7 linked regions of the Homo sapiens genome follow. Changing the gene in region 4 together with the main gene of any one other region gives a genetic interaction. Each region holds a gene or a part of one and is shown on either strand. Other genes may lie near its edges. The genes, in order: SLC39A9, CAND1, VPS45, RABGEF1, SEC31A, DEPDC5 and B3GNT2.

Region 1 (3,500 bases), on a different chromosome or scaffold from region 4:
TGGGTTGTTTGGCCCACGCACTGATACAATATTTGAATAAGTAGCCAAAGGATAAAATTCAGGAGACTTCATATAAAAATCCAGATTTCTAGCTTTGGAAAAATAGGAAGATTTGGTGTCATCAAATGATATGTGCCCTTTAGATGCCCACAGTTCTCACTTCTCCCTAATGACTCCCAGGCACTGACACTGAAGGTCAGCTGCCATATATCATGACACTGGGGCTGTCTTATTTTACTCCAGGCTTAATTCTCTGTTCAGCCTTATTTGATTTTATGATCCATTACCTACCTCTATCAGTCAGGGTCCTTTCATCAAAGAGAAAGCATAAAGTAATTTGAAGAGAGAAAGTTTAACATAAAGAATACCTACAAAAGGGGGCTGGGCATGGTGGCTCATACCTGTAATCCCAGCACTTCCGGAGGCCAAGGCGGGCTGATCAACTGAGGTCAGGAGTTTGAGAACAGCCTGGCCAACATGGCAAAACCCTGTCTCTACCAAAAATACAAAAATTAGCCGGGCGTGTTGGTAGGCAGCCGTAATCTCAGCTACTTGGGAGGCTGAGGCAGGAGAATCACTTGAACCCAAAGAGAGAGGTTGTGGTGAGCCAAGATCATACCACTGCACTCCTGCCTGGGCAACAGAGCAAGACTCCATCTCAAAATAAGAAAGAAAGAAAAAAGGAATACCTATAAAAGCATAAAAGGGGACTAGAATGATGAGGAATTGACTAAGAGAGAACCGTAAAGAATATAATAGCAGGGCCGGGTGCGGTGGCTCATGCCTGTAATCCCAGCACTTTGGGAGGCCGGATTCACCTGAGGTCGGGAGTTCAAGACTAGCCTGACCAACACGGAAAAACCCTGTCTCTACTAAAACTACAAAACTAGCCAGGCATGGTGGCAGGCGCCTGTAATCCCAGCTACTTGGGAGGCTGAGGCAGGAAAATCTCTTGAACCTGAGAGGAGGAGGTTGCAGTGAGCCGAGATCGTGCCATTGCACTCCAGCCTGGGCAACAACAGCAAAATTCTGTCTCAAAATAAAAAAAAAAAGAAAGAAAATTGGCCGGGCGCAGTGGCTCACGCCTGTAATCCCAGCACTTTGGGAGGCCTAGGCGGGCAGACCACCTGAGGTAAGGAGTTTGAGACCAACATGGAGAAACCCTGTCTCTAACTAAAAATACAAAATTAGTGGGGCGTGGTGGTGCATGCCTGTAATCCCAGCTACTTGGGAGGCTGAGGCAGGAGAATCACTTGAACCTGGGAGGCGGAGGTTATGGTGAGTCAAGATCATGCCATTGCAGTCCAGCCTGGGCAACAAGAGTGAAATTTGGAAGGAAGGAAAGAAGAAAGGAAGGAAGAAAGGAAGGAAGGAAGGAAGGAAGGAAGGGAAGGAAGGGAAGGAAGGAAAGGAAAGAAAGGAAGGAAGGAAATTAACGTCAGATAAATACAGGGTTTGCAATAGATAGTTTGATGTAATTATCTATTAGTTACCCTCAAGACCTTTTCATTTAAAAATGAATTTCCATGTAAGAATTTCCAGGGCTGGGTGTGGTGGCTCATGCCTGTAATCCCAGAACTTTGGGAGGCCGAGGCAGGCAGATCTCAAGGCCAGGAGATCCAGATCATCCTGGCTAACATGGTGAAACCTTGTCTCTACTAAAAATACAAAAAATTAGCTGGTTATGGTGGCACGCACCTGTAATCCCATCTACTGGGGGGGCTGAGGCAGGAGAATTGCTTGAACCTGGGAAGGGGAGGTTGCAGTGAGCTGAGATCACGCCACTGCACTCCAGCCTGGGCGACAGAGCAAGACTCCATCTCAAAAAAAAAAAAAAAAAAAACAAAGAATTTCCAGTCTAACTAATATTTATTTCCATTTTATTTCAATAAGTTAAAAACTGAATATTAGTATTCAAGGAAGACTGAGATTTCTGTAATTTCATTATAGGTTTTAAGAAATACCAGTACTCATACTTAGTACTACTACTTTTTTTTTTTTTTTTTAAGACAGTCTCGCTCTGTTGCCCAGGCTGGAGTGCCATGGTACAATCTCAGCTCACTGCAATCTCCGACTCCAAGGTTCAAGCAATTCTCCTGCCTCAGCCTCCCGAGTAGCTGGGATTACAGGCGTGAGCCACTGCGCTCAGCCCAGTGTGGAATTCCATACTGAGCTGAAGGGGATCTTATCATTCAACAAAAGTCTCATCATTAAATTCTTTAATTAGAGGAGAGGTTAAGACTATCATATACAGAAACATTCTGAATCCATTTCATGTCATCTTCTCTTGAAAAGGATGTCACTTCTTGAACAGCACAATTTACGACTAACCTGTGAGGATGTCAAGTGTGAAATTCATCTTGGATAGTTCACAATAGGAACTACTTCAGATTCCAAATTGGCAGGTGTTAATTTAAAAGGCATCTAAGACATATTAACTTATTTCTTATAGGTTTCAATGGTATTTGGAGACTGTTTACCTCTGGAGTTTCAAGTTCTACTCCACTGACTAGGCAGAAAGCATGAGATATACTGTGGAAGGTATGAAAGATGTTCCTAATTTGGGGAGCTAAAGGCATCAATTTAGGTAGATCCTATTTTCATTCCTTCTTTACACAGCATTCATTAGGAAAGGCAACATTTAGTAGTCAAGTGACTGATTTGGCAACAGGAATCAAAATGACTTAGTTCCAAATCACACCTCTACCAGAGTCTGTGACCTCTTCAAGCCTGAGTTTGCTCATTTGTAAAGTGAGGTTTAACAGTATCTCATAGTCTTGGTCCTGAGGATTAATAAGATAGTGCATATCATTGCCTGGTATACAGAAAGAGCTCAATAAACATTATTAATATTATTATGCAGATAAGTCTTAATTATGTTTATCAATATAGTATCCTGGAGAAAACAAAGTTTTTCAGGAAAATAATATTGAATCATATTGCAACCGGATTTTATTTGATCCAAACTTAGTTTTATCAAGGATCCTTATGAAACAATAATCTGTAGTTCAATCTGAGAAAAGACAAGCTGATGATTTCTTTCCAGATATGGATAAATTTACTGAGATTGCAAAGTTTAAAATTTTATAATTTACGTTCATTCATCTGAGACAGGGTCTCACTTGTTGCCCAGGTTGGTCTCAAACTCCTGGCCTCAAGCAAACTTCCAGCTTCAGCCTCCTAAAGCACTGGGATTACAGGTATAAGCCACCATGCCCGGCTCAAATCTTAGAATTTACAAATGAAATTCCAAACAGGTATAAAATCTCTTGTATTACCATAAGAGGGTAAGAGCAATGTACCAGACAATATAAAAGTCCTTAAAAATGTAACATTGTTAAATCTACTTCAAAGAGAACCTATTGTAGAGGCAGAAGCATACTGAATAAATCTGTTCTTCAGACACAATAAACCTTTGATTTGCGGGTAACTCAAACCCCTAAAGATACTTATTATGAATGAGTCAGTTATTATAATCAGACACTGATATGGTTTGGTTG
Region 2 (3,048 bases), on a different chromosome or scaffold from region 4:
CTGAGGGCCACACAGGGACCATCTCTTCGTGTGCATAGGGTGCCAATTCACCTCAGCCTTTAGCCACAGACCAAATACTTCATCCAGATAAGGGGTAGATGATAAGAACCTCAAATGGGATACTTAAAGCCCAGAAAACTTTGTAACTGGGCCCTTGAGCCACTTGCTCAGGCCCACTCCCACCCAGTAGAGTGCTTTCTCGCTTTCATAAAATTCCTGCTTTTGCTGCTTCATTCCTGCATTTCATTCCTCTGCTACTTTGCGCGTTTTGTTCAGTTCTTTGTTCAAAATGCCCAGGACCTGGACAATTCGTAGTCAAGCCCCTCCACTGGTAACACTAGATACATTAATAATTTGCCCAAAGTCCCACTCTCAAGAAGTGGTAGAACCAGATTTAAACCCAGGTTTAGAGCCTGAGCTTTTACAACTATATTATAATGTTTCTCAGTAAAGCATTACCAAAGACCAAGAAATAACAGATGCTTCAAGATGGCAAAAAATCTGATGTGCTTATATTTATTGTGTCAAAATTCTACTGAAATGACAGTAAATATTTTTTAAAAGGAATGAATCCAAAACCATATATAGAGCAAGAAGGAAGGCCCAAGAATTTTGGAAATTCTGACAAATTTCTAGAAGGCAGAAAGCTGGGGGCATCAGAGTACAGAAAGTCACAAACCAGACAAGGAGGGGTTACTTTTAGTCCAGACAAGTGACTCCAAGCTGAGTCTTTAGATACAGAAACTGGAACTACGTTGGCAGTATTCAGTTTGACATTAAGGGCTGTTTGTGAACAGCTGGACTAGTCGGCCCTTCCCATACCCTCAGTAACCATCAGCAATGGTATGGAGGAGGGGAATAGCAGTATCTGCACCAACGTTAACAGACAGACAGGTGCTTTTAAAAGGAATTTGACAATATTACGTGCCTGAAAATGGAGTCAGGTTCCAAACATGGGAGTTGGCCCTTGGATTATGCCCTCTTCATTACTTGTCCAGGGAAGACTTCCTGGAGTCCTTGACCTAACCTACAAGATGAAAAGCAGCCAGCTAAGTAAAACAAAAGAGAAGTCAAGTCATTCCAGGCAAAAGGCATAACTTGACCTTGAGCAAACTTGAGAAGGCAAGGGAAATATTTTATAGTTGTCAGAAGAAAAAGTTAGTCCTAGTTGTGAGAGATGCTGAGGCTGGTGGGGCAGGCAGTAACCAGATCTAGTTTGTACTTATCCTATGGGCAAAAGAGAGACAGTGAAGGATGTAGTGCAAAGATGAAATGGTCAGGACCATTGTTTTGCAGCTGTGTAGAGGAAGGACTGGGAATTAATGCCTTCTGGGTATTTTAATGTGGTGGTTTCCAAGGTGTGGCCTTGGGGAACAGCATTAGAACCTGGGAACGTCATAGAAATACAAATTACTGGTTTACTACAGCCTACTGAACCACAGCCTCTGGGTGTAGGGCCCAGCGATCTGTTTTAATAAGTCTTACAGGTGACTGTGATGCACACTCATTTGAAAACTATTCTTCTAAGAGCTCATTCCTCAAGACATTTCATCTCCTTTATGAATTGTTTCTGTCTCACTCATGTTGAATGGACCATACCCTCAATTATTAACCCCCAGTATCCCGTGTATACCTCTCATACAGCAGAATTTTATGGTGCTTCCTTATGTCAGTCTTCCCATGATAATCAGCAAGCTTCTTCATATCAAGTACAGTCTCAACAGCTTTTGTAGCCCTGGCAGCACCCTAAGCGCGTAATAAATTGGCTTGCTAAATGAATGAACACAAAAATAACGATTAGCAGGCATTTGCCGCAGTCCAGTCAATAGATAAGGAGGAAAAGAGGTCTTAAGCCAAAAGCATGAGAGATATTTAGGAAAGAGATATTTAGGAGATGGGCATGAGAGATATTTAGGAAATAAAAGGGACAGAATGCTAGTAAGAGTTAACAATTATATTACTTAGTATGTCCCAGGTACTGTTTTAAGTGCTTTATACAATGTTCCTATTTAATCCTCACAATAACCCTATAAGGTGCAAATATTTTAATTCCCATTTTATAGATAGGGAAAGTTGAGGTTAAATTATTTGCCCAAGTCTAACAGCTAACAGCCAGGATTCAAACTAATATGATATATGATGTCTATCTATCTGTAGAGTCCTTGTTTTTTTTGAGACAGGGTCTCGCTTTGTCACCCAGGCTGGAGTGCAGTGGTGCATGCAATCTTGGGTCACTGCAACCTCCACCTCCCAGGTTCAAGCAATTCCCCTGCCTCAGCCTCCCACACAGCTGGGACTACAGGCATGTGCCACCACGTCTAGCTAATTTCTTTGTGTTTTTTTAGCAAAGACGGGGTTTCGCCATGTTGGCCAGACTGGTCTCGAACTCTTGACCTCAAGCAATCCACCTGCCTTGGCCTCCCAGAGTCCTTGTTCTTTATCATATTCTGCCTCCAAACTCTTGCTAAGTGAGGCTTTTAGATTTCCAGTTTGAATGACTGGGTAAATGGGATGCCATCAGCAAAGAGACAGGAAAAACCAGGGCAAGATGATGACTTCAGCTTTAGATATGCTGTGTTTGAGATACCTTTATGAGATGTATAGCAGGTGGTTGGATATAATAGTCTGAAACAGGGGCATGGACTGGGCTAGATGTATAGATTAAGAAACTGGCTGGGGGACGTGGCTCACGCCTGTAATCCCAGCACTTTGGGAGGCCGAGGCGGGTGTATCACCTAAGATCAGGAGTTTGAAACCAGCCTGGCCAACATGGCAAAACTCCATCTCTACTAAAAATACAAAAATTAGCTGGGCATGGTGGCACACGCCTGTAATCACAGCTACTTGGGAGGCTGAGGCAGGAGAATAGCTAGAACCCGGGAGGCAGAGGTTGCAGTGAGCCGATATTGCGCCACTGCACTCCAGCCTGGGAGACAAAGCAAGACTCCATCAATCTCAAAAAAAAAAAAAAAAAAAAAAATTAAGAAAGAAAAAAAAAGAAAAAAGAAATCAACAACATGTGGCTGGGCAAGGAGGCACTTGCAATAA
Region 3 (3,500 bases), on a different chromosome or scaffold from region 4:
ACAAATAAAAACTGATAACATTCTTTAACTAGTCTTCTTTACATGAAGATTCTCGAGTTAAATTTTATTCATACTTTGTGCTATAAGCATTAAGACTGTCATTTTAATTGATTAAACACTGAAGAAAAGTCAAAATACTTTTAGATTTCATACTTTTGGAAAAAGGGCAGCAAGATTAATATTCTTGATAGAAAGAAAACAAATTAGAGCTATTATTAGCTCCAATTTTTTGCCTGTGAATTAAGAGTATATTTTTGGCTTCACAGATAGAGCTATATTGGTACTGCAGTTACAAGCTGTACCATTTCCTGTATGCTTCTATGGTTTTCTGCAGCATGAGAAGTGTGTTCTTGCAGATCTGAGTGGTACTATATTTGTCCTGGGAACACTAATATTATCAGAAAAACCTTGTGAGTTGATCAAAACACTGGGATATTCAGAAACTTACCTTTGAACCCATTTTATTTTATATTTTTACCTAAGGGGAGATGAGAGGAAGGACTGGTTTCCAGTCTCACAAATTGAGAATTTATTTGGTAAAACTGGAAATGAGAAATCTCCAAATTTTCCCTTTTCACCAATTATGGAGAATAGATTACTTTCAGTCATAGGTCTGTTAGACAAAATGAAGTATTTTCTAGCATGTTCCCTTCTGCATCTAGAATCTAAATGCTAGAAATATTTATATACATATTTTATCTTAAGAAAACTAGATTTATTAAGAAATAATTTAGAAGGTTATAAAAGAAGGTGCTTATTTCCTAAAAGATTTGCCAAAGGAATTCTTGAAAAAGCAAGTTCCATTAAGTCGCACTTAAAATAAGTACAACAAGGCTGGGCATGGTGGCTCATGCCTGTAATCCCAGCACTTTGGGAGGCTGAGGTGGGTGGATCACTTAAGGTCGGGAGTTCGAGACCGGCCTGACCAACATGGTGAAACCCCATCTCTACTAAAAATACAAAACTAGCCGAGCATGGTGGCACATGCCTGTAATCCAAGCTACTCAGGAGGCTGAGGCAGGGAATCACTTGAACCCAGGAGGCGGAGGTTGTAGTGAGCCAAGATCACACCATTGCACTCCAGCCTGGACAATAAGAGCAAAACTCCATCTCAAAAAAAAAAAAACGTACAACAAAATGTTTTATGCTTTTATGGATAGCTTCTTGTACATGCTTCTAGCACTTACTCTACAATTAAAATTATGTTTATTTTTCTCATAATTGGACCATGAGCTCTTTGAGGACAGAAATTGTAACTTTTAACCTTTTATCTCTAGTACTTAGTTTAGTACGTGGCACAAAAGAAGTCCCCAGTGAAATCTGTGGGATAAATAGTTGCTTTTCTTTGGGAGACAGAATAATAGGCAATTAATTTTCTTTCTACTTTTTGATATTATCAAAAGTTTCTTTGGTGAACATATATTACTTTGAATTTTAGGAATACAAGGCTATTTTATACTACAGAGAAGTTTCACTCCACAGATTTCCCTTAGCATTAACATTAGTACAAGCTGGGAAGAAACTGAAACATAGACTGTGCCTTTCTCTGTAAATACAAAGTCACAGCCGGGCGTGGTGGCTCACGCCTGTCATCTTAGCACTTTGGGAGGCCGAGTCGGGCAGATCACTTGAGGTCAGGAATTCGAGACCAGCCTGGCCAATATTTAGACAGAAACCTTGTCTGTACTAAAAATATTTAATACAAAAATTAGCCAGGTGTGGGGGTGTGCACCTGTGATCCCAACTACTCAGGAAGCTGGGGCATGAGAATTGCTTGAACCTGGGAGGCGGAGGTTGCAGTGAGCTGAGATCACGCCAATCTGGGTGACAGAGAGAGACTCTGTCTCAATAAATACATACACACATACAAAATCACTATTAATAGAGCACCCGCTATGTGCACTGTTCTTATACTTGAAGGAGAAAAAACACTGGTGAGACTCAGTCTGCCTTGAAGAAATATGTAACGTAGGAGAGGATGTAAACAACCAAAGCTACAACATGGCAAGTACAGCATGAGACATGAGAGAGACACAAAGGTCTACAAGTCTACAGGGATTTTCAGGAGATAAGAACAATATCTGACTGAAAGAATACAGGCTTCGAGATGTTGAAGAATGGCTGGATGTTGGAGATGGCTTTTGAGTGTTTTTTTTTTTTTTTGAGACAAGAGTTTCGCTCTCGTTGCCCAGGCTGGAGGACAGTGGCATGATCTCGGTTCACTGCAACCTCTGCCTCCCAGGTTCAAGTGATTCTCCTGCCTCAGCATCCTGAGTAGCTGGGATTACAGGCATCTGCCACCACGTCCAGCTAATTTTTTGTATTTTTAGTAGAGACAGGGTTTCATCATGTTGGCCAGGCTGGTCTCAAACTCAGGACCTCAGGTGATCTACCCACCTCGACCTCCCAAAGTGCTGGGATTATAGGTGTGAGTCACCGCGCCCGGCTCTTCTTTTTTTTATTCTTTGCTATTATTCATATAAATCATTTTATTTATTTATTTATTTATTTTTGGAGACGGAGTCTTGCTCTGTCGCCCTGGCTGGAGTGCAGTGGCATGATCTCAGCTTACTGCAACCTTCGCCTCCTGGGTTCAAATGATTCTCCTGCCTCAGCCTCCCAAGTAGCTGGGACTACAGGTGTGTGCAACCACACCCGGCTAATTTTTTTGTAGTTTTAGTAGAGACGGGGCTTCACCATGTTGGCCAGGTTAGTCTTGAACTCTTGACCTCAGGTGATCCAGCCACCTTGGCCTCCCAAAGTGCTGGGATTACAGGCGTGAGCGACCGTGCCCGGCCAGATTGAGTGGTTTTAACAGCAGTATTTTGATAGGTGAAGATGGGAAGAGAAGGTATTCCAAACATTCTAGAGTTTAGAAAGCAGTCACAGTAAAAGCATGCTGGCAGGAAACCATGTGGCATTATCTATGTAAGTGGTGAACTCTAGGTTTTATAAGAGGTTTAGCCCACATTGTGAAGGCTCTTGGATGCCAAGTTCAGGAGTTTCTTTTTAACCTAGTAGGCAAATGGGAACCAATGAAGTTTTTTAAGCCAAGAGTAATAAGATAGAGCTGTGCTTTAGGAAATTGTACTTGTGGAACATTTGGAGTGAGAAGAAATAAAAAGTAGGGAACGAAGTAGATGACTATTTCAATATTCTTGCAAGAGATTAGGATCTAGACCAAGGCAATGGCTGTAAGCATGGAAATGAGGAGACAGAAGGAAACACAGGGAAATAGAATCTACAGAATTAAGAAGCTGTCTTGATTAGGGGTGGAGGTACTGGCAGAAAGGTACAGGAGAGATGAAGCAGAAGAGTTATGATGACAGTGGATGGAAGAATCATGATACCAAAACACCAGGAAATACAAAGCAAAACCAAGAATAGCTAAAAATAAGGAGGCAAATAAATGGACCATGTTTTTACTTCCCTATCTGTATTTTGATGAATATCACTTAAAATTATCCTTCTATTATGCCAAGAAAGGGTTTTGTACCTGG
Region 4 (3,500 bases):
TGGAACAGTCAGCTGAATAAAAACTAAATAAAAAAAGAAGTACAAAAAAAAGAAAAAAAATTTATTCTATCTGCATTTGACCTTAGTTTAGTTTAATGCCCAAGAAACGAGACCATAATCCCTGAAAATAAAGGGGTAAAAGAGAACCTGCTCTTCTGAATGCCATCAAATTCATAAAACAATCTTACAAATCACTTTTACTACATTCCAATGTACCTTCGACAATCTGCATTTTACAAATGTATAGATGAATATTACAGTAAAATGTTAACTTTAAGGGGAAAACATCCCAATAAAAAGGCTCTTGGTTTCACTGACCTGTGATCGCCTTCACCACCATATCAGACACTTCTGGGATGTCTTCATTAACAGGGACACACAGCATCTGAGGCGTAACCCAGCGCAGGGCTCTAAAGAGAGAGAGACAGTAAACAAGAGCTCCAAGGATAAACTGTGGCCATTTGTCTTGTCACCTCCTTCAGTTTAGGGAAAGCCTGAGGCATCACTGACCACTCAATCCCAGGCCCACACACATCACCCCTGCAAGTACTACGAGCTCTAATGACGTGATGAAGCAGCTAGGATCCTAAAATGAGACTTCTGCATTTATCACAAGAATGGAAGGCCATCTTGCTGACTGAAATGACATTACGCAGTGCTACCAAGACTGAAATGCACTCAGTATCTGAAAGTGACCATTTGAGAATTGGCTGCTGCCTGTCCTCGCTGCCTACTGCGTTAATGTCCTTTTACACTCAGTCCTCAACTTCTTTCTTTTTTGAGATGGAGTCTCACTCTTGCCCAGGCTGGAGTGCCAATCTTGGCTCACTGCAGCCTCTGCATCCTGGGTTCAAGCAATTCTCCTGCCTCAGGCTCCCAAGCAGCCGGGACTACAGGCGCCCACCTCCATGCCCAGCTAATTTCTGTACTTTTACGAGACAGGGTTTCACCCTGCTGGCCAGGCTGGTCTCAAACTCCTGACCTCAGGTGATCTGCCTGCCTTGGCCTCCCAAAGTGCTGGGATTACAGGTGCGAGCCACCACACCTGGCCTCAACCCTCAACTTCTGAGGCACACTGGAGCTTGTATAGGAGGCCACGGGCAGGACCACCATGCCTGAATCACTGTGTGTTTCCTGGTCCCACCCTAACTGCACTCCAACTACCCTGCAGCAGGCCTGCCCTCTTGCTTGGTTACTGCTTCTGTTCTGCATCTTGGTCCAGGGCCCCTCTAGTTACTTCTGGCTCCTGACCTTGGGCTCCACATCTTCAGCCTGCCCAGTATCAACTCCTCACTTCAGCTATGAAACTTCCAATACAGATCTAGCAAGTACCAGCCCCTTGTCTGGAACCTGGGACTCCGAGTCCCTTCTCCCCTTAAAACACCTCATCAGCTCAGCCTTGGCCCTGTTCCCACACTTGGGTGGTCTCTTCCTCAGTGTCCACCGCAACTGGAGTACACAGTGCTGGGGCTCACCCCAGTGAGCCTGGAAGACTGGGTGCTGTGGGAAATGTCATCAATCCAATGCCAGTGAAAGATGTGACTAGGGAATGCTGAAAAATGCACACCCCTGGGAGGAATGAGGAAAGAGGACATCTACTGACTTGTTATTTTTTTGAGAAGGAGTCTTGCTCTGTTGCCCAGGCTGGAGTGTGGTAGCATGATCTCAGCTCACTGCAACCTCTGCCACCTGGATTCAAGCCATTCTCGTGCCTTAGCCTCCCAAGTAGCTGGGATCACAGGCGTGCGCCACCATGCCTGGCTAATTTTTGTATTTTTAGTAGAGACGGGGTTTTACCACGTTGCCTGGGCTACTCTTGAACTCCTGGCCTCAAGTGATCCTCCCAAAGTGCTGGGATTACAGGTATGAGCCACCGGGCCCAGCCGACATCCCCTGCCTTGATACCGATATTCACAGCTTCCCACTTGAGGAGATGGTAATGGACCAAGAACACAGTCCCCCTATTCCTTGGAGATTTCAGGGATTGAAAACAATCTCAAACACCAAACACAACTCTTACCAAAAGCTGCCTTGAGGGAGATGGATAGGTGAGGTCACCACATTCCTCGTCTTTCTTACACAACAGAGCTGCTTCCACTCTAAGGAAGCAGGAACATGAGCTATTGCTTTCCCTTAAGGTTTGAAACACAGGTGCATTATTTTCCCCCCAGTGTGTTCTTCCATTAGAAGGTAGTAACTACAAAGCAAAACAAAATAAGCAACTACCTGATTCTCTTTTGAATGGCAAGATCTTTCTTCTCATCATCAGTAGTTTCTGGACAGAATACATATTTATAGAGACGAGTCATGATGTACTTTTCAATCTGATCCATTATCTTCTCGACTCTTTCTGGAGGCACTGAAATAACCAGACAGAGAAAAGATCAAGATATATATATTTTTTCTCTCTCTTTTTTTTTTTTTTTGCAAACAAAGAGTCTGGCTCTGTCGCCCAGGTTGGAGTGCAGCAGCATGACCTTGGCTCACTGAAACCTCCACCTCCTGGGCTCGAGCCATTCTCCTACCTCAGCCTCCCAAGTAGCTGGGATCACAGGCACACGCCACCATGCCTGAATAATTTTTGTAGGTTTTTTCTGTGGAGATGGGGTTTTACCATGTTGCCCAGGCTGGTCTCGAACTCCTGGGCTCAAGCAATCTACCTGCCTCAGCCTCCCAAAGTACTAGGTTTATAGGTGTGAGCCAGAATGCCCGGCCAAGAGTATATTTTCATAGCACTGTCTACACAGCAAAAAACTAATTTACTAGAAATAAATTAAACACACTCAGAACAAAAGTATAAGAATGTTATATTTAAAAATACGCTTAAAAAAAAAACTTACCAGCTGGGTGCGGTGGCTCTACTCCTGTATTCCCAGCACTTTGGGAGGCTGAGGCAGGTGGATCGCCTGAGGTCAGGAGTTCAAGACCAGCCTGGCCAACATGGTGAAATCTCCTCTCTAATAAAAATACAAAAATTAGCTGGGTGTGGTGGCACGCACCTGTAATCCCAGCCACTCGGGGGCTGAGACAGGAGAATCACTTGAACCTGGGAGGCAGAGTTGCAGTGAGCCGAGGTCACACCACTGTACTCCAGCTTGGACGACAGAGTGATATTCTGTCTCGACAAAAACAAACAAACAAACAAACAAAAAAATCTTCTTCCAACTGTTGGGCTGCCTTCCACAGCAACCTCAGTTCTAACTGAAGTTGTCTGACAGGACCTAACAGTGTACACCCTGCCAAATGGGGAGACTTCAGCAAGGTCACTCCCTGTCCTACATTACAAAGGCATTTGCAACTCCCAAGACTGATGAATGCTGATGAAACTTATCCTTTCATTTTTCTGAGGTTTACCATAACATCGTAGAGCTCTCTGAGGTATACAAATGGAGATTTCTCTGACACACACATGTGCTAAGTATATCCTAAAGTCTAGTATCAGTGAAGGTTGAATCCATAAAGAATCCCTAAAAACTTGAAGCTCTTTTTTTTTTAAACTA
Region 5 (3,500 bases), on a different chromosome or scaffold from region 4:
AATTATCCTGGTTGAATAAAGCTTACTTTTGAACAGTAATTTCTGTAAATACAAACTTATGTCCAAAGGTTAAACTGATACAAAACTCAAACTATGTGGAATATTCTATGTCCTAAAATTCTTTCCCAAAATTATTACAAAATATAAATTCTTTAATTTTATACTTTAACCTAACTGTATTCAAGACTGCTTTACCTTTGAAAAACCAGTACCGTATAAAGAAACAGACATTCCAGTGGAGGCAAAATGACCAACCAGGAAATTCTATTTGTTATTCTAATCTAACTCCTCTTAAAGTAAAAGGAAAAATGCCTCCAACCTCTCTCCTCTATTCCTCTTCCTCTTTTTTCATTTTCCTTAACTAGATCTACTATAGATGTTAAATATTCTGTTTTCATTATAGTAAACTCTATGTACTCATCTTCAAAATAGGTGTGCTGACTATGTCGCTCTCCTCTAAACAGACCTATTATTATTTTTTTTTACTTATTAAAAATGTATTTCATATTACACTTTTCAAAGCAGAGAAGGAAAAACTCTGGACATAAGTTAGGTTGTATGCTCTTTATAAGGCTTCTTAATTTCATGATGAATTGCTGAAATCACACTTTTTCAATTGTTTCTTTAATAGGAGGACAGATTTAGAATATAAAGGAACAGTTAAATTTGCAGATAATGAAATAATATAGCTTTAAACAGCAACTTTACCTTCAAAAAGGACCACACATTTTTCTCAAATTCAGTCTGAGAAGCATCAATTTTTTTTTGGCAATAATTGATAAATCCTTGTGACTGCACAGCCTGCTGAAGTTGGTCTGATCGGCTGAGGAACTCCTTTTCTGTTACAACCTGACTAATGAACACATGGTGCTGCTGCTGCTGCTGCTCAGCTCCCTGATGAGAAGGCATTCTGACATTCTCAAACGTAACCAGTTTGCCTCCAAACTATAAAAGAGAGAATGAACAAACTCAGTGTTAACCCAAGGATATGGCCAAAAAAAGTGCTTATAAAGTGGCCTAAACAGATAATCTGGATGAAATTAGTTGATACAACCTCTCATGCGCCACAGTCTGACACCACTTCAATTTCTGTTCTAGATGAAATGTACTTTTTTGGTTTTTTGGTTTTTTTTTTTTTGAGACAGAGTTTCGCTCTTAGTCACCCAGGCTGGAGTGCAAAGGTGGGATCTTGGCTCACTACAACCTCTGCCTCCTGGGTTCACGTGATTCTCCTGCCTCAGCCTCCTGAGTAGCTGGGATTACAGGTGCCGGCCACCATGCCTGGCTAACTTTTGTATGTTTAGTAGACAGGGTTTCACCATGTTGGCCAGGCTGGTCTTGAACTCCTAACCTCAAGTGATCCACCCAGATAGAGAAGACCAGATAGGACGATGAGAAGATTAAGCAGATCCAAAGAACAGACTTACGAGTGACATAAAACATATTCAAAGGTCCATTTTAGGAAGATTAATCTTGGAATATGTAGTAGAGATTAGAGGGGGAAAAGACAAGCAACAAATATGAAATCAAGCTATTAGAAGTTTGGCATGAAAGAATTAGGCAAGGTATCAGCAATGTAAAAGGAAGAAACAAACAAAAAGTGCTAGAGAGGATGTGGAGAAACTAGAACCCTTGTGCACCACTAGTGAGAATGTAAAATGGTAAAACGGCTATAAAATGGTATGGAGGTTCTTCAAAAACTTAAAAATAGAACCATCCTATGATCCAGCAATCCCACTTCTGGGTATATGTCCCAAAAAACTGAAAGCAGGATCCCAAAATGATAATTACAAACCCATGTTCACCACAGCATTTATTCACAATAGCCAAAAGGTGGAAGCAACCAAAATGACCATCAAATGAATGGATAAAAAAAAATGTGGTATATATATATATATATATATATATATATATATATATATATATATATACAATGCAATATTATTTGGCCTCTAAAAAGAAGTAAATTCTGTCACACTACAACACAGATAAACCTTGAGGACATTAAGCTAAGTAAAATAAGCCAGCCACAAAAAGACAAGTACTGCATGATTCCATTTATATGAGTAATTTAAAGTAGAAAACTCCTAGCAACAAAGTAGAATGTGGTTACCAGGGATTCAAGGGAAACAGGAAATGGGGAGCTGTTGTTCAAGGGCACAGAGTTTCAGTTTTGCAAGATGAGAAAGTTCTAGAGATCTGTTGCACAACAACGTGTATATAGTTAACACTACTGTAGTATATATTTAAAAATGGTTGTAGTGTATATTTTAAAATGGTTAAGATAGTAAATTTTATATTATGCATTTTTTACAATTAAAATTTTATATTATGCATTTTTTACCATTAAAAAAAGCTGGCAATTAAAAAAGAAAGCTAAAAGGATGAAGAAGAGGGAGGACACTCCCTGCAAAAAGAAAAGAAAAAAAGAAGAAAAGAAAAGAAAAAGAAGGGAGGGAGGGAGGGAAAGAGAGACAGAGGGAGGGAAAGAGAGACAGAGAGAGAGAGAAGGAAGACAAATTTAAAAGGGAGGAGGGCCGGGTGCAGTGACTCATGCCTGTAATCCCAGCACTTTGGGAGGCCGAAGCGGGTGGATCACCTGAGGTCAGGAGTTCAAGACCAGGCCAGTCAACATGGTAAAACCCCATCTCTACTAAAAATACAAAAACCAGCCAGGTGTGGTGGCACGTGCTTGTAATCCCAGCTACCCAGGAGGCTGAGGCAGGAGAATCGCTTGAACCAAGGAGGCGGAGGTTGCAGTGAGCCAAGGTTGTGCCACTGCACTCCAGCCTGTACAACAGAGTGAGACTGTCTCAAAAAAACAAACAAACAAACAAAAAAATGGAGGAGGGGAGGAATATAAAGTGTTGGCTACACAACAACAATGTAAATGTACTTAATGCCATTGAACTGTATATTTAAAAATGAACAAAATGATCAATTTTATGTATATTTTACCATGATTTTTAAAAAAGGGAAAAAAAAGAGTAGGTTCCAATTTTTCAGAGAAACCATTTTGAATGATGAAATACCCACAAGTACATCTCAAATCCCAACTTAAACCCTGATTGCTTCCATCAGAGTGACTCTATAATAACACTTTGGTATAAAAAGTCCTTTGTGCCTATGGACCATAAAAACAAAATCCACCTACTGAAAAAGAAGCACCAACAGGCCTTCGAATCCACTTGGGCGGCTTCTTCAGAGGCAGCACTATACTATGCTGAGCAGTCTGCTGTGGAATTTGTAACGGAGGAAGGGGCTGTCCTGTGCCAAAGGGATCAAGATTCCCAAAAGATGATGAAAGCTAAAAAAGATAATAATAACATAAGCATCCGACCATACACAAAGTTTCATTTTTTTCCAGTCATATCCAAAAAAATTTTTGATCACAATTGTCCAATTAACCAGCATTGTTAATCAGTGAAGTCATTTCAAAATATTACACAACACATACTTTTTTCAGGCATTATAATAGAAAACTTTAACACTTCCTATTA
Region 6 (3,500 bases), on a different chromosome or scaffold from region 4:
AGGCAATCTGCACTGCCACTTGCATCAAGGGCACGTCATCCCTGAGCTTCATGGGGTTTGTTTTTTCAACTGTGGCAAAATACACATAACAAAAAATTTATCACATTAACCTATTTTATTTTTTTGAGACAAGGTCTTGCTGTGTTGCCCAGGCTAGGGTGCAGTGGCACTATCAAGGCTCACTGTAGCCACGACCTCCTGGGCTCAAGCACTTCGGCCTCCTGAGTAGCTAGGACTATAGGGGTATGTCACCATGCCCAGTTAATTTTATTTTTTTTTATTTATTTATTTTTTGAGACAGTTTCACTCTTGTTGCCCAGGCTGGAGTGCAATGGCTTGATCTTGGCTCACTGCAACCTCCACCTCCTGGGTTCAAGCGATTCTCCAGCCTCAGTCTCCCAAGTAGTTGGGATTACAGGCACGCACCACCACACCCAGCTAATTTTTGTATTTTTAGTAGAGACAGGATTTTGCCATGCTGGCCAGGCTGGTCTCGAACTCCTGACCTCAGGTGATCTGCCAACCTCGGCCTCCCAAATTGCTGGGATTACAGGCATGAGCCACCGCGCCCAGTCAACCCTGTCTCTTTACAAAGAAAAAAAAAAAGAAAAAGGGAGAGAGAGAGAAAGGGCAGAAAGTGTTAAAATACACATACACATCCTTGCCCAAGGATGCAAAGATGGAAATCCAAAGCCCACTCTCTGACCTGAAGTCTTCAGAGCCGGCAGAACAGATATACTGATCTAAGTAATTCCACTTGTACTCCTCCAGCCGTTCGTGGGAGAATTCCACCCAGCAGGAGACGAACTCTGAGTCTGAGTGGGAAGGACAGAGGCTGTAGGTGTAGTGGATCTGGGCAGATTCATAAGGATACCTGCAAAATAAAGGGCAGGTCCCCAAATTCAAAAGAGTTAGAGACAAATTCCTGCCAATTCTTATTTTCTATCTCTATACACTTAGAACCATCCTTGACATTTACCCCTCAACTGTAGTAACCAACTTATCCCAGGGAACGGTACTAGAAATTTCTCAGATCTTCTTAAACTCTTTCCTTCTTCTCTCCTCACAATCTTTATTTGAAATAGGCTTGTCATGAATCATGCTAAACATTATAAGATGAATCAAATCCCTTTTGGAAGTAGGTAAGCTATAACCCTAAAATAACCCTAGAAACAAACAAACAAAACTCCAAAAGAAAAACCAACCACTGAACTTCCTCAGTTTGAATGATGTACTATACACACAATTTAGTATGTGGCCATAATTCAGGACAATAACTGAAGACTTTAAATATCCAAATACTCACTTGGGAAGGTATCGCGTCACTGTGATCATCTTATCCTTCAGCGTCACTTTGTGGAACGTTCTGCCCATACTCAGCCAATACTGGTCCTCCTCCTCAGGGCGGTTTCGGGACACAAGGCCTAACAGAAAAATAATAATTTCCTCCATCTGTTTGAAGCTCATTCCTATAACAGACAATTGTTTCTCATCCATATAGATTCAGAAAACAATGTAACACTTTCTCTTAGGGGCAGTTTCATGGAAGAAAGTTATTCTTGGTTAAAAAAAACAAACAAAAAACTCCTGAGGTTGGCAGATTTTTCTGTTATTAAACCAACCAGGAGCAGATTAGAGCCTGAAGGTGCTAGCTGATAGCACCTAGATGGCACACTCAAAGCTGAACAACCTGATACCTCATCCTCTGGAGAGGAAAGTTCTGTAAGAGATGACTGTGTTACTAAAATGGAACTCTACTACACCAGCATAAGCTGCCCACCTTGGCATTCGAGGTTCTCACTCCAAGGTGGCAGCCAACCTAGCTTTCTGGTCCTAGCTCTCACTAATCCTAAACTGCTATACCAAGTTTCAGTCTAAAAGGACCATTTATTGATTTGCTGCAAATATTTGCTCATGTTGTTTCTTTTTTTTTTTTTTTTTTTGAGATGGAGTTTCGCTCTTGTTGCCCAAGCTGGAGTGCAATGGCCCGATCTCGGCTCACTGCAACCTCCACCTCCTGGGTTCAAGCAATTCTCCTGTCTCAGCCTCCCGAGTAGCTGGGATTACAGGCACGCTCCACCACCCCAGGCTAATTTCGTATTTTTAGTGGAGACGGGGTTTCTCCATGTTGGTCAGGCTGGTCTTGAACTCCCAACCTCAGATGATCCACTCGCCTCGGCCTCCCGAAGTGCTGGGATTACAGGCGTGAGCCACCGTGCTCAGCCTGCTCATGTTGTTTCTTTTGCATTCTCTTCCTGGGCCACCACTGAAATCCCAGATCATCTGAAGTCACCATCAAATGCTACTTCTTCCAGAAAGCCATCAGGCCCCATCAGCAGTCTGAATCCTACCTTGTATATAGTTCCTTGTGCGTATATCTGTCACCCCTTACAAATTAAAACTTCCAGGAGGCCAGGGCTCAAACGTTGTTCCTCCTTACATTTTTAGAAGCACCTGATAAAGTGCCATGTCCAGTATTAGCTGAACTGAACTGAACGCAGGAAAGAGGAAAATAATCAGGAATCAAGAAAATGACAAGTGTTCAAGAGAGTAAAAATCATGCCTCAAAGAACAACCAAGCCAAGCCAAGATTCCTTTGATCTAGAAATGAAAGGCAGTCCTCTTGAGGCAGGAGAACAGGGTCTGGAGGCAGGGAACCTAAGACTAATTCAGGCTGACTTCCTAGAACTAAATCAAAAGGAAAACCCCAACTTTCCACACCTAAGTAACAAAAGGACCGGAGGTTACTCCCTTCACAAACCACTCTCCGCTTTTTCTGTGAGGCAGATGGAAAACTGAAAGTGTCTCTGATTGGTTTGATTTTTACAACCAAACAGACGTTTGCATAGAAGTGTAACTTTGTAACTTCACTTCAGCAACCAATCAGACTGATTGCGAGCCACCACTTCATTTACATAGCGTGTACACCAAGTAACCAACGGGACACTTCTAGAAGGTATTTAAACCCTAAAAAATTCTGTAAAGGAGCCCTTGAGCCCCTATGCTCCAGCTCACTCCCACACTGTGGAGTGTACTTTCATTTTCAATAAATCTCTCCTTTTGCTGCTTCATTCTTTCCTTGCTTTGTTTGTGCATTTTGTCCAACTCTTTGAGGTGCCAAGAACCTGGACACCTTCCACTGGTAACACTCATTCAGCTCTGAGACAGTCACACAGTGACAGGCAGCATGTGAGCGGTCAAGAGGAGAGAGGAGGACAGCAGAGGCTGAAATAATATTCACTGTGAATGTGGAAATTTCCCCGATGGTGCCAAGGGAGTAGCAGGCCAGCTGCATACAAAACAGAAGCTACTCAGGGGACCCCAGGTCCAACCCCAGCACTTTCACTTGCCAGCTTGTGTGATCTTGGGCACCAAATCTCACTTTCTACAGCAAGAAAGAGGGCAAGCCCTCATCCAAGCATTCCTTCTTCATTCATGCAACAAACACTCTGCTGGCTGTTGGGAAGACAATGCCATGGGACAAGGTTCATGAGCATCTG
Region 7 (2,559 bases), on a different chromosome or scaffold from region 4:
CATACTTGCTCAGAAATGGCTTCCACATTCCAAACAGGATTAGACTGTTTGCTCTTACAACACTAACCCTTCTGTTTTTTGAGCTTCATCAATTGTCTACTTGTTTCCCACTGGACGTTAGTAGTGTCTTCTCAACATGGGTCTATGAAAGGAAATTGAGTAGTCAAGGCTGATTCTATATTTCATCTTTGTGGCTACAAACTCCAAAATAGAAATGGCTTAGGATAACACAATCTTTACAATGCCACACCACTCCCTAATTAAATTATTTATACTCACTGAAAATGGAAGCATAAATAAATATTCTCACTTTTCTTTAAAGACTTTAAATGGGAAAGCACTTTGGGGATTTTAAATGCAAAGATGGATGACGCACTGAGAGACAGTGATAGTTCAACACTACTGTAATGGTTTCTGGGGAGGAAACTGGCCTCTTTCAGGGAAAAATGTTCTCAAATATGGGAAACAAAAGGATTATAGATTACACATTACACAAAAAATTAAAAATACAGTGGCTTTATTTCCATTGTTTATAGTCCCCAGTATCCCATCTGATAAGAACCTTCAATTCTATAAACAAAAATATTTCAAGAAAGTATGTTACACAATAGTACATATAAGTAATAGTTTGGCAGAATTTTAAACTCTAGTAGTTCATACCCCCAAAAAACAAATTTTAAAATTCAAAAATAACAGTTTTATTTAACATATGTTACACCTTAACATTTAAAATATCATGCTCTAGTTAAATATTTCATCAACAACACTGTATACAAATAAAATATTACATAAAATATATTTAAGAAAATGTTTTGGTCTTTGATCTGAACAATAAATAAAAACACAGGCACTTCTACATAGACAGGGAAGCAGTTACTACTCAATAATAATCTTGTATAAGCAGCATGTGAAAATATGGCAATAATAAATTCTGGAATTTTAAATTGACAAACCATCTATGCAAAAGTCTGTAACTTCAACCTTTTCACTCAAGTTCAAAATACATATGCCTTCCTGGTCCATATTGAAAATTCACTAACACGATATGGTTGTTAGCGGCAATTCAATCTTCAGTTGGCCATTAAGGAATCACACTGATTTTCAAATACTAAAATTACACTATGATACCACCAGGAAACCAAATACAAGAAAAATTAAACCCTCTTTCTCCTTATTATGACCATAACATCACAACAAGATAAATTAGATGAGTGTCACACCATGATTCTCATTTTGCAAAATTAATTAACACACAAAAATACTGTTGGGGTGGCAGGAAATTTCCACAATTGAAAAACTGAATTCCACAACTGACAACTGAAATTTCAGTTTTCTAGACAATTTAAAATTTACCCAAATCCCATAAAAATAAACATAATTCCATTTCACGAAAACCACTGGATAATGTTTAACAAAGTCTTTGTAGCCAATAGGTTTATAAATACCTGAATTACAAATAAATCAGTCATTATTATGGGAAGTAGGAATATTATAGAAGAGGGCAAACAAAATCACTTAAAATGGCCAAATTCCAGAAACAGGATTTCAGATAAGAGGGTACAAGTTTTTTAAAAATGACCACTAGCCGGTAAGATCAGAACCAATCATCCTGCCATATCATCCATAAAAAAAAATTACCATCTTCCGCTTTCCCTCTTCACGTGAGTACCAAATTGAAGGGTTTAGAGGCCCTCAAATGGGTATCACTCATAAAGGCAATTTTCATGGTTTAATATAGAAATTACTCTAATGTGAGAACACAACATGGGAACTATTCAAAATACACCTTTCTATGCAAAATTGAGTTTGTATCTATTTTAGCATTTTAAATGAGCACTCTGCAACTGAGACCAAATATCAATCATCTCTTGAGGTTTTCTACTATGTACTAACATCAGATCTACATAGGAGCAGATGTTATTTTTGTTTTTCTCCTCGATATCAAATGTCCTGAAGCCTTTGTGTTTCTCTGGAACGAGGCCGAGTTTCTGAAGGCACATTCCAGTATAAACGTCATCAATGGGGTAGAGATGGACCTGGTCAGTGATATGGTACAGCCTCAGGGCCAGGTGGCCGGAGTAGAGGAACCCCCCTCCCCCTGCATAGGGTGGGTAGAGGCCAGAGTAAACAACTTCTGGGATGTAGTACTTCAGCTTCTTATCCCGATGAGGTCCAGCATTGTGGATCACATCACCTATGAAGAGATCTTTGGCTTTGGTCTTGGATAAACTATTCAAGTAATTCAGGATGTGATGGGTGTTCACAAAAACATCGTCATCGCCCTTGAAAACAAACTCAGTGTCTGGGCAGGAAGTACTTACCCACCTGAGAAACAGCACTTCCTTCAGAGACAAGTTGAAGAAAGTGTCTCTGTAGTTCCACATAAGAATGTCTTGGTGCTTCTCACTCTCAAATTTCAGCATATCTGAAAGGTCGGGGTGGTTGTCCTCTGGGGGTGTCTGGCCCAGCAGGAAGACTCGCACCACCGTTTGGTTCCCTGCGTTGCTTTCTTGGCCCCAGGATTCCCGGATTGCTTGCCTTCTGGCAAAATGTGGAGTG

The links.
Region 1: changes in RABGEF1 (region 4) and SLC39A9 together harm fitness less than expected from each alone (positive genetic interaction), as found in Homo sapiens cells (one large-scale study listed by BioGRID).
Region 2: changes in RABGEF1 (region 4) and CAND1 together harm fitness more than expected from each alone (negative genetic interaction), as found in Homo sapiens cells (one large-scale study listed by BioGRID).
Region 3: changes in RABGEF1 (region 4) and VPS45 together harm fitness less than expected from each alone (positive genetic interaction), as found in Homo sapiens cells (one large-scale study listed by BioGRID).
Region 5: changes in RABGEF1 (region 4) and SEC31A together harm fitness less than expected from each alone (positive genetic interaction), as found in Homo sapiens cells (one large-scale study listed by BioGRID).
Region 6: changes in RABGEF1 (region 4) and DEPDC5 together harm fitness less than expected from each alone (positive genetic interaction), as found in Homo sapiens cells (one large-scale study listed by BioGRID).
Region 7: changes in RABGEF1 (region 4) and B3GNT2 together harm fitness more than expected from each alone (negative genetic interaction), as found in Homo sapiens cells (one large-scale study listed by BioGRID).

What each region holds. Positions count from the first base shown.
Region 1 is NC_000014.9:69,405,192-69,408,691, reverse strand, and holds part of SLC39A9 (zinc transporter ZIP9), read right to left. Parts: intron 1-3,500. UniProt on the Homo sapiens protein: Transports zinc ions across cell and organelle membranes into the cytoplasm and regulates intracellular zinc homeostasis. Participates in the zinc ions efflux out of the secretory compartments.
Region 2 is NC_000012.12:67,317,406-67,320,453, reverse strand, and holds the end of CAND1 (cullin-associated NEDD8-dissociated protein 1), read right to left. Parts: 3' UTR 501-3,048; downstream 1-500. UniProt on the Homo sapiens protein: Key assembly factor of SCF (SKP1-CUL1-F-box protein) E3 ubiquitin ligase complexes that promotes the exchange of the substrate-recognition F-box subunit in SCF complexes, thereby playing a key role in the cellular repertoire of SCF complexes.
Region 3 is NC_000001.11:150,077,776-150,081,275, reverse strand, and holds part of VPS45 (vacuolar protein sorting-associated protein 45), read right to left. Parts: coding exon 3,497-3,500; intron 1-3,496. UniProt on the Homo sapiens protein: May play a role in vesicle-mediated protein trafficking from the Golgi stack through the trans-Golgi network.
Region 4 is NC_000007.14:66,796,233-66,799,732, reverse strand, and holds part of RABGEF1 (rab5 GDP/GTP exchange factor), read right to left. Parts: intron 3,116-3,500; exon of another isoform or gene 3,000-3,115; intron 2,958-2,999; coding exon of another isoform or gene 2,841-2,957; intron 2,360-2,840; coding exon 2,227-2,359; intron 411-2,226; coding exon 319-410; intron 1-318. UniProt on the Homo sapiens protein: Rab effector protein acting as linker between gamma-adaptin, RAB4A or RAB5A. Involved in endocytic membrane fusion and membrane trafficking of recycling endosomes. Stimulates nucleotide exchange on RAB5A. Can act as a ubiquitin ligase.
Region 5 is NC_000004.12:82,863,654-82,867,153, forward strand, and holds part of SEC31A (protein transport protein Sec31A), read right to left. Parts: intron 3,308-3,500; coding exon 3,155-3,307; intron 946-3,154; coding exon 709-945; intron 1-708. UniProt on the Homo sapiens protein: Component of the coat protein complex II (COPII) which promotes the formation of transport vesicles from the endoplasmic reticulum (ER).
Region 6 is NC_000022.11:31,841,019-31,844,518, reverse strand, and holds part of DEPDC5 (GATOR1 complex protein DEPDC5), read right to left. Parts: intron 1,425-3,500; coding exon 1,307-1,424; intron 875-1,306; coding exon 707-874; intron 1-706. UniProt on the Homo sapiens protein: As a component of the GATOR1 complex functions as an inhibitor of the amino acid-sensing branch of the mTORC1 pathway.
Region 7 is NC_000002.12:62,222,673-62,225,231, reverse strand, and holds the end of B3GNT2 (N-acetyllactosaminide beta-1,3-N-acetylglucosaminyltransferase 2), read right to left. Parts: coding exon 1,818-2,559; 3' UTR 501-1,817; downstream 1-500. UniProt on the Homo sapiens protein: Beta-1,3-N-acetylglucosaminyltransferase involved in the synthesis of poly-N-acetyllactosamine. Catalyzes the initiation and elongation of poly-N-acetyllactosamine chains. Shows a marked preference for Gal(beta1-4)Glc(NAc)-based acceptors.